Linked DNA regions of Homo sapiens: region 2 is linked to region 1. Evidence: fine-mapped expression QTL. A gene starts in region 1. The other region holds a variant in brackets. All regions are shown on one strand. Distances are from middle to middle. Region 1 holds the start of REV1 (REV1 DNA directed polymerase). Region 2 overlaps AFF3 (ALF transcription elongation factor 3).

Region 1 (5,528 bases):
GAGAACAGGGCTGGCAGCAAACAAGTCTAAGGGGGGAAATAAATAAGTGGGAAAAAAAAAACAGTGTATCTTCACCTAGTAATAAATGCTATGGAGAAAAAGAGAATAAAGAATAAAAGATTATAAAGGAAGGGGCTGGTTCCTATTTTAGAATTAGAAAAGGCCTGAGGCGATGACATTTGAGCAGAAACACAAGACAAGACATGAAGAGCCTTGACCACTTAGAGGAAGGGGTGGTCCAGCTAAAAGAATAGTAAGTATAACATCCTAAGGAAGAAACACTTTGTTCAAGAACCGGCAAAATGACTATGGGACTGGGGTAGGTTGCTGAAAGTCAGTCACCTAGTAAGAGGTAACGTTAGAAGCTGGCAGCTGCCAAATCATGCTATGCCCTGATGGCGACTAAGATTCAAATGTAAGTGGTTCACAGGATGCTTTTAGAGGACACTAAGCAAGAAAGTGACAATCTGATTTACATTTTTAAAAAGATCCCTCTGGTTGTCAAGGTGAATCCCTAGGGAACAGTCAGGGAGCAAGAGAAATAAACCAGTAAAGGCACTATGGAAACACTCCAACCAAGAGATAATGGAACTTAGACTAGGATTCATGTACTGTTTATAAGTAGATGCTAACAGAAGAGCCTGCAACCTAATTGCCTCTAAAGAGCCTTTTTAATATCCCTTTTCCCGTCTCGTCTCCTGACTTGCCTTTGGAAAAAAATAAGATTATTTTTTAATGTCCATGTTAACGCTTCAGTTGGTGCTATTATAGTAAAAAAAAACTTTTCATTTTTAAATGTTCTGTTTAATATACTCTATGATTAGTAATACGCCACATATACACACCCATACATTCTTGAAAAGCAGAAAGACCCACAATGCTCTTTAGTGTAGGACTTGTTCATTTATTTGGAGACGAGAGGTACCTGTCACCTCTTCTGATTACCTTTCCTCTCACGCTTTGTCTCTAGCACATCCTGGCTCATTCTAGATTGTGAACTGCAATAAACAGGTATACCAAAGGGAATATGTATTTACTGAGCACCTCCTGAGTACCATGGTGTCACTAGATGTCTCACGTTTAAGAACTGATTTAATCCTCAGCTACCCAAGGTGGGAAATGGTATCTTCATTCTACAAACGAGAAAAAATCAGAGATACTAGTAACTTAACTTGTCCAGTCACCAGCTAACAATTTGTAGGGCCAGAAATCTAACCTCCATGTAACTGTGAACTTCCTGTCTTTCCACTACAGCAGCTATCAAAGAAAGTGCTTTCAAATATATATTATATGTAGTCACTGCAACTTCTTATGAATAATGACCAGTTTGTTGCTGGTGAGGACAACGTTTCCTTAATGCTCTTATGTAGAATCAGAGTTTTGAAGTTGCGAGTGGGAAGTTGGAAATGTAGTGATCTTATATATTCAAGCACATTATTTTTTAAAAATTATGTTCTACTTGAGACCTCATAGAAATTAATTTTAAAAGAGCAATTCCCATCTTTACAAAAAAAATTAAATATGTACGGTTTACCGTAAAATAGCGGTTAAGGTTCTACAACAAAAGATAGGAGTTTGGTACAGACTCTACCCTCAAAAGGTCCTACACAGTAAGAGAAGACAGGGCTAAAAAGATAAACGCAACACAGGAAAAGGCGCAAATAGCCTAAGAATTGAATGGAAGAGAGCCTTGTATACTGGAGAATGATTCCTGGAAGAGGAACTTTAGGTGAGCTCTTAAGTGTCCAGTACAGGAAGGCAGGGAACAATACGCAGCACTGGTCCCTGCACGGGCAAACCCAAGAATATGTGTGAAAGGTTGGTGGACAGATAGATGGTTCCCACAGGCTGATTTGCTACATACAGAACTCCATAGAAAGAACCAAGGTTATGGTTGGTCCTACCCTACCTAAACAGGAAATGGCTTATTCTCGGAGACTAAAGTGCCAAGTCCGGAAAGACCAGACAGATACACAGAATTACAGACTGTTACATAAAGTCCTTAATAGTTACAAGCCCTTGTTGTGCTATGTGCTAGTCTGCATTATTTTCACCTAAATGAAACCATTTCTACTTAGTACATGGCGTGAGAAGACGTGGAGATAAAGAGAATTAGCAGACGTATATTATCTGCAATTTATCTTACGGAGGAGTACATTAAGGAGTGTTATGTGAGATTATTTCTTTACAAACTGAGAATAGGTAGGAAGAGCAGCGAAACACAGCGCGGCTCGGTGCGCCCAGAGCGGCGTCACTGTAACAGTACAGAAGTGGGCAAGGGGCTCTCGGAAGGACAGTTGGGGAACGGCGCCCAGCGTATTTAGCGAACGGACAAGCAGCAAGGAAAAACAAGGGAGCAACAACCGCCTTCGGACATTCCGACCGGTTCTGGGATGCACCGGGGACGTCGAAGGCGGGGTGCGGAAAAACGCTGTGGCTGGAGTGCGGGTGGGAGCGGCGGCTCGACCGGGTCGACATTCTACAAACGCTTGTGGAACGAACGCCCGAACGCGCGCGTGAATGAATGGCGCGGAACTGAATGGCCGGCCGAGGCGCCGGCGCAGGAGGAAGGAGTTTGCGGCGCGGTCTGACCGGGCCGGCGGGATGCGGCCGGGCGCGGAGGGAAGGGCCGCTGCGCCAGGGGTCGGCGCGGGGCGGCCCATGGGGCTGGCGGCGGCGCGGGGCCGGCCGCGCCATGACGGAAGGGAAGGGGAGGGGAGGTCACACATTACATAACCCGGCGGCTGCGAGCGTCAGGGGAAGGCGCCGTGGACAGCCCAGGCCGCGACAGGACGGCCGCGGGCCGGGGCCGGGGCGACGCACCCCTCCCCCGCGCCACCTCAGGCCGACCGCGCTCTGGCCGCTGCCGGGCGGGTCTGCGGCGCCTCCGGGCGACGCGTGTCCGATCCCGCCCCTCCCCCACCCCGCCGCCGGCCCGGGGGTCGCTCACCTTCCGCGTTGCCCCAGACCACCATGCCCGGGCCCGGCGGCCTTCTCCGGCCTTGCGGACCCCGGCCCCGCCGCCGCCAGTGCCCTCGCCAGGGACCAGGGAGGAGGGCCGGGGGAAGGCAGCCCCACCGCTGAGCAGCGCCGCGGTCCACGCTCCCCCACGCTCGCGGCAACCAACCCCGCGCGCGCTCCGCGGTGGCTCTCCGCCCCTCCCCCTCCGGTTAGCGCGCGCGCCGCAGCCACGCCCCCTAGCGTTCCGCGCGCGCTCCCCGGCCCCGCTCGCGCTCACAGCCGCGCGGCGCACGCGCTCTGCTCCCCCCGGCCCGGGGCGACCCCAGCCTCGGGCGTAGCACCGCGGCGCCCGGCGTCGGCCTCCGTGTTCCTCCCCTCCCCGGCCCCGCCCTGTTGTTCTGCAGCCGCCCGCAAGGGGCAGCGCCTGGGCGGCACGTGACCGTCTCGCTAGCTGGGCGGAGGGGAGCGCAGCGCGGGCCCGCCCACGCACTGCGCCGCCTGCCCGCCCGTCCTGCTCCGGTCACCCCCGCGCTTCGTTGACCGGGTCGCGGCTCTTCGGTTGCCATTCGGACAGCGCGCCGCTCCGTGCACAGCGAGTCCCCGCGCCTGCCCCGCCTTGGGGCTCCCCAGTGGGGAAGGACACAAGTGCAGACACTGACCGGGCTTCAAACCCCGGTACTGTGTGAAGATGCGCCAGACGCCCGGGTTCCCTCCTTAAGCAATTGATTTACAGTGACATCTAGTGGAGAAAGGGACACACATGAACTGACATTTTCCTATGTCCAGAGCAACCGAGAACCACGGCCCACTCAGGTTCGCGGGAAGGAGCACTGCGCCACGGCGTTTTCGGGATTCGTGGCCTGCTCCCGCAGGGCACAGACACTATCTTCTGTCCTTTGAGTGCCCGGGCAGCATTGCGCCTGAGTATTTGTAAACGGAGGGCCGGTATCCCATCCCATGTACAGCGCTGGAGTTACCCGAGAAAGCAGTTTTCTATGAATATAAAAATAATATCCTATATTATGTATGCGTAAGTACAATTCTAATTGAGGGCCTTCTAGCAGAAAACAATCCGTCCATAAGGACCACTTTCTCCCTCTTGGCAGGGTCGCTTTGAAGACTCCACATTGTTACATAATAGTCTTTATTGTTGTAATGCACAAACATGAAGATACTTTTTTCCCACTCATTCCCTTGCCTAAAATGCTTCAGAGTTTGCAGGTACTTAGGAAACAATCAGTATTCTTTTGAAAACTGATTTGCAGAGTTGGAACTTGTTTACTAGCAACACAGAGAATACTCAAATAGCTCATTTCTTTCCCTTTCAGTTTTTTGCCATTTTATAGACTTCTATAAATGCACTTCAACTTCAGTATTCTCGTCGCTAATCCAACGAATTTAGATTGCATACTTTTCAAAGACGTCATAATTTAAAACAAATTGCGTAATTGCTTTCTTTTCTTTTCTTTTCTTTTGAGACGAAGTTTTGCTCTTTTGCCCAGGCTGGAGTGCAATGGCGCGATCTCGGCTCACTGCAACCTCCGCCTCCCAGGTTCAAGTGATTCTCCCACCTCAGCCTCCCGAGTAGCTGGGATTACAGGCATGCGCCACCATGCCCGGCTAATTTTTGTATTTTTAGTAGAGAGGGGGTTTCACCATGTTGGCCAGGCTGGTCTGGAAGTCCTGACCTCAGGTAATCCACCAGCCTTGGCATCCTAAAGTGCTAGGATTATAGGCGTGAGCCACCGTGCCTGCCCATAATTTTAACAGACTCACGACCAGTTGCCGACTGCAACACCAGGAGGTCATCTGCTGAGATGCTACAGAAAAACAGTGGTAACCCCTTGTTATGGGTGAGTTTTGTTTTGGTTGTTGTTCTTTTGCTTGTTTTAAATGTCTAAATGGCAGCATTCCTGCACGATTGTATTTCAATTTTCTTTTCCACTCTCGTATTCAAACCGAAGATCTTTTTTTTTCTTCTTTTTGTATTTTTCTCAAGGAAGAAACACAAACCTTGAGCCAACTGACCTTGGCAATACCTTTATAGAATACAGTAAAATGGTATTAACTGCAAACTAGTAGGCAGCCTCTGTAAAGGACGAAAAAAAATCACGTTGCTGTCTACATAAAATAGGATAAAAAGAGAGATGGGGAATACATAAATAAAAATGTATTTATGGACAAATTCTAGCATCCTTGTGACAGGGTCTTGCTCTGTTGTCCAGGCTGGAGTGCAGTGGCAAGATCATAGCTCAGTGTAACCTCAAACTCCTGGTCCCAAGCGAACCTCCCACCTAGGTGTTCCAAAGCACTAAGATTACAGGCATGAGCCACCTCACCCAGTCCAAAGTTTTATTTTTGTCCATTCCAGAATATTATGTTTTATGCCATCACATAATGAAGTCCTCTTGTTTCAATTTCATGCACCTACATTTATTCACCCACTTATCTATTTATATTTATTCTCATAGGATTATCTTTCTCATGTAAGGGGAGTCAGGCTGACCTTTGGGCCACTCTGGGGGTCTAGAGATGGCCGCGCTGGACCCCTACACTTGGGGGAGTGC
Region 2 (5,000 bases), 71 kb after region 1:
TCTATAGATAAACAGAGAAGAGGACCAGAAATCTCAAATTAATTATTAATGTAAGGTCGACCTCACAACAGTACATCAGCGAAGGCTTTTAAAAATTTATTCTCCCAGTGAAAATAATTTCATTCCCTGAGATAAGTAAAAGGTGGCATGGTTTGCAATTTTATCCCTATAGCTACACACTGCTATCTACTGCTTCTGAGTTCTAACAAGCCATCTCTTACCATTTTAAATAACGCCATTAAAAATTAAATAAGCTACTAGAGACTGGCTAAGAGGGAATGGCTCTAAGGGGTTACTTCTAAGGAAAAGAAGCTCTAAGTGAGCATGAGGAATTTATGTTAGCTATAAAGATGAATTTCCTAGGACAGTGGAACGAGTAACTGGATCTTCTTTCTCTTGAAGCCATAAAAATACCTGGACAAGGCTGGGCGTGGTGGCTCACACCTGTATTCCTAGCACTCTGGGAGGTGGAGGCGGGGAGATCACCTGAGGTCAGGAGTTCGAGACCAGCATGACCAACATGGTGAAACCCCATCTCTACTAAAAATACAAAATTAGCCAGGCGTGGTGGTGTGCGCCTGTAATCTGAGCTACTTGGGAGGCTGAGGCAGGAGAATTGCTTGAACCCAGGAGGCGGAGGTTGCAGTGAGCCGAGATCGCACCATTGCACTGCAGCCTGGGCAACAAAGAGTGAAACTCTGTCTCCAAAAATACATAAAAAAATAAAAATAAAAAAATAAAAATACTTGGACAAGAAGGCAGGGAGATACATTAGATGGGCTCTCAAAGGTCCATTCTGAGGCCTGAAAGCCACAAGTGTGGCATAAATGGGGTTACCTTGGGGACCAGAGGTGACCTGCATTAACCCCAAAGCAATGGAGTCTACCAGGTGCTTCACAAATTTGACAGGGAGACAAGTGAAATTAAGGAACAATTCTGCTCATTCACTAGACAGTACCTTGAAATAGTCGATTAGTGCTTTTGAATACTTTACAGCGTGGTCCCTTTTGAGTCGAAACATCCGCCAGTACAGGAGGGCCAGGCATCGGTAACTGCAGGCGAAAAGAGAAACAGGCCCAGAAGCGGCTGAGTGCGTCGTGCGCAAACAAGACTTAAACATTTTTGTTGTTGTTCTAAGGTACTCAATAACAATACCTTGTTTCTACATAGGAAATCTTTCTATACGTGCATATAATGTCTGTGAGGGAACATCTTTTGTCCAAAAATAGAATTCAAAATTCCAAGAAGGTATTCCATAAATACATTTATCACTAGATAATTTTACAGCATTAGGTGAATCACTCTGTTGGGTCACAGGGGCCGGCCGCTTCCTTCTTCCACCACGAGAGGGCGCTGTCTCTCCACGAGAGGCGCGAGGTAGCTCTAGTACGCAGCCTTCACTGCTTCGCGGGCGAGCCCCGCTCTGCGGAAAGGACGACGCTGCCACCTGATGTTACTGAACTATAAGCAGCTCCACTAAAGTCACAAACATGAATGTACTTTATAAACAACAAAAACACTATGCTGGGAATAGGTGCCATCATTATAAACAACAAAAACACTATGCTGGGAATAGGTGCCATCATTTTATTATTTCCTATAATATTTTGTATACTTATTTATATATCAGTATTCTATCTTATATAATCATATTATTGTCATTTAGTGTATTATTCCAATATGGGACTTAAAGTTTGAAAGGGGCACAAAAGGCGTTTCTGAGACTTATCCTCTCTTCCTTGGAGCTCTTCACTCAGTTATTTGCTAACTCGGATCTGATGCTGACATCCAGAATACCAACATTCTGGGTGCAATGGCACCATCTCCTCCTACCAACCAAATCCAGGACAGGTAACAATTTGAGACCTTTTTTGTGTCTGTTGCTGTTATTATTATTTTTTAATTCAACTGTCTTTATTTCACTGCTTGGTAGACATGTATTCTATCAACATTCTCTGCCTTCCACCTACTGATGAGTAAGAAAGGGCTGACAGGTAAAGGAACTATAGGTTACCCGATCGTTCCCTTTTTTCTGTGGCATCATTTTCAAAGTAAGCGGCTGCGCCGGGTGCGATGGCTCACGCCTGTAATCCCAGCACTCTGGGAGGCTGAGGCAGGCAGATCACTTGAGGTCAGGAGTTCAAGACCAGCCTGACCAACATGGTGAAACCCCATCTCTACTAAAAATACAAAAATTAGGCCGGGCACAGTGGCTCATGCCTGTAATCCCAGCACTTTGGTAGGCCTGTCGATTTTCAATCACTGTGAATTCAGATCATGTATAGTACGGCAGCAAAAAATGGTCTGGACTTTCCCTGGTCATTAGAACTGCTCTGGGGCTTTGTATGTTAGAAGACATTGGGCAAACACTATGCCTTTCAGCACCTGGTTTGCCA[A/G]TGATGGCATGCGAGGCTGGGGCTGCTATTCTAAGCGGAGATGGGCACTCACCATAATGCAGCCAGTTGTTTGTCTTCTGGTGTGGCATTGGGGCCTGAGTGGGTTTTTAGTCTCATAGCATACCTTAGAAAAAGCGGGGAGGAGGAATAGAATAAAAAACATAAAAAGCAAAGAAATAGTAAAACTAGCTTTTTTATTAACAGAACTTCTATGATGGTAGTTCTCCCTGCCTGATCCTTAGCTTTTCATAGTACTTGCTGATAATTCTTTCTTAAAAGCTAGCTGGTGCTGCTCCATTTTCCCAAGTATTACATTACTGTGATGACTAGAACAGCTACTTTCTGCTCTTTAACAGTACAAGTTCAAATGCTACAGATTGTCGGGAGTGATACCAGTTCAAGAACTATTCATGTATATGCTAACATGTCCATTTTTCCACATTTTGATTTATGGCTGAGTGTCTGACAGATGGAGGTGAAGTTCTATCCTTCTGTGCTTACCTCCAGAAGAATTTCCATCCTGGGTATGCAGAGGAATGCTTAGATTTACCCCTCTTTCTTTGTTATGTAACTTTTACTTTGACAGCTACATAAGTGTCCTGAGTACATTTTTAATCTCTGTTTGCTTCTACAGACAGATACTACGAGAAACTAGTGGCTTTTATGGACTGCACTTAATTCCATTTATTTTTCTGAACCAAGGGGACTGTGGCCATTGCTTTCTCCCAACAACATACCAAATTACATATGCAGACTCTTTGAGAGAGCTGAGGCAGTATGTGTAATGATCAGATTGTCCTAGGTTCAAATCTCAGCTCAGCGACTTATAAGTTGTAAGTGCTTAGACAAATGTATTAACATCTTTAAGCCTCCATTTCCTTATCTATAAAATAAGACTAATACTGCCAATCACATAACATTGTGTTAAGAATTAACTAAGATAGCGTTTGTAAAGCTCTTGGGATAGTTGGCTGGCTTGTAAATTGCTCAAGAAACATACTGTTATCATCGCACTATCTCCTCAACATGCAGACTTGTAGCATTTTTCAGTGTTATCTCTTTGCATAATTTTTACAGCGGTTGCTCTGGATTTTACAATATACATGTAATTTATTGGTATCAACATTTTATCACTTTGGGATAGTATGGAAGTCTTACTTCAATTTAGATACCTTTACCTTCCCCACTTAAAAATAGCATTGTCTTGAGTATCAGATGGTGGTATAATTTTTTATTGTTTTGTTTTGTAGCAGTGGGGTCTTACTATGTTGTCTGGGCTGGTTTCAAACTCCTGGCCTCAAGCTATCCTCCCAGCTTGGCCTCCTAAAGTGCTGTAATTACAGATGTGAGCCACTGTGCCTGGACTGCTGGTATAATTTTTGTTTCAATCCTCAAACCTGGTTTATAAACTCATAAGGAGTAGTTTATTGTATATATATCTATGTGTCTGTTCTTCCTTCTTTCCCAATGCTCCCATATTCCTTCTTTTGTCATTTTATTTCTGTTTGAGAAACTTCTTTTAGCCAGTCTTTAAGGGTGGGTCTTTTAGAGACACATACTTGTACTTTTCCTAAATCTGAGGCTATCTTTATTTCCCTTCATTCTTGAAGAATAGTTTCACTGACTCTAGAATTCATGGCTTCACAGTTCCTTCTTTGAACCCTTGGAAACTGTCACGCCACTCCCTCCCAGCCTGCATGGTTTCAGAGAAGCCTGCTGTCATTCGAATTGATTCTCCCCTGCAGATAATTATCGTTTCTCCCTGGCTGCTTTCAGGATATTTGGCCTTTAGTTTTTGGAAATGTAATCATGGTGTGTTTTTGCATGCATTTCTTTGGGTTTATCTTATTTAGGTTTTTCTCTGCTTCTTAAATCTGTAGGTTTATGTCTTTTGACAAATTTGGCAAGTTTCAGCCATTATTTCTTCAAATACTCTCTCAGTCCTACTCTCTATTCCTCTCCTCTGAGACTTCCATGACACAAATGTTGGATTTTTTCTTATTGTGCTTGAGGCTGTGTTCATTTAATTTTTTCAGTCTATTTCTTCTTTACTGCTCAGATTGGGTAAATTATATTTTTTGTCCTCAAGTTCATTGACTCTCTCCTGTCATCTCCACTCTACTACTGAGTCCATTTTTGGGGTTTATATTATCAAATTCTACAGTTTCACAATTTCCATTTAGTTCTTTTTAAAATAACTTCCATTTCTTTGAAAAGATTTTCTGGTTTTGTTTGTTGAGTGATAACTGTGATTATTGAAGCATTTTTACGATGGCTGCTTTAAAAATCCTTGTCAGATAATTGCAGCAACTGATTCATCTTTGCATTGAGGTCTTCTGATCATCTTTTTTCATGCCAGTGGTGACTGTCCTAGTTCTTGGTATGATGAGTGAGTTCCTATGGTATCCTGGACATTTTGACCATTAGGTTAGGAGACTCTTGAGTCCTATTTTAAACCCAGCCACCCTGTTTAGGTCTAGCAGGAAGGCCCTAGCCTACTTTGGGGGCTGTGGTTCCAATGATAATTTAATTTTCAGAGCCTTTCTGATACTATTTTAGTCTGTGTGGTTGATCTGGTGCCACCGGGGCTTCAGCTCATCCCTG

Evidence for each region.
Region 2: its variant is fine-mapped to the expression of REV1 in whole blood (INTERVAL, PIP 0.94).

Annotation. Positions count from the first base shown.
Region 1 is chr2:99,486,867-99,492,394 of GRCh38, forward strand. It overlaps REV1 (REV1 DNA directed polymerase), which reads right to left and starts at 3,151. Exons shown (of 23, transcript NM_016316.4): 1 at 2,951-3,151. RefSeq lists silencers at 2,626-2,705, 2,776-2,875, 2,986-3,655 and an enhancer at 3,089-3,974.
Region 2 is chr2:99,557,917-99,562,916 of GRCh38, forward strand. AFF3 (ALF transcription elongation factor 3) reads right to left here. Exons shown (of 25, transcript NM_001386135.1): 21 at 2,449-2,520; 22 at 959-1,052. Among named protein-coding and RNA genes, the nearest start is that of REV1, 70 kb to the left of the region's middle. The variant A/G (reference allele first, on the strand shown) is at 2,397.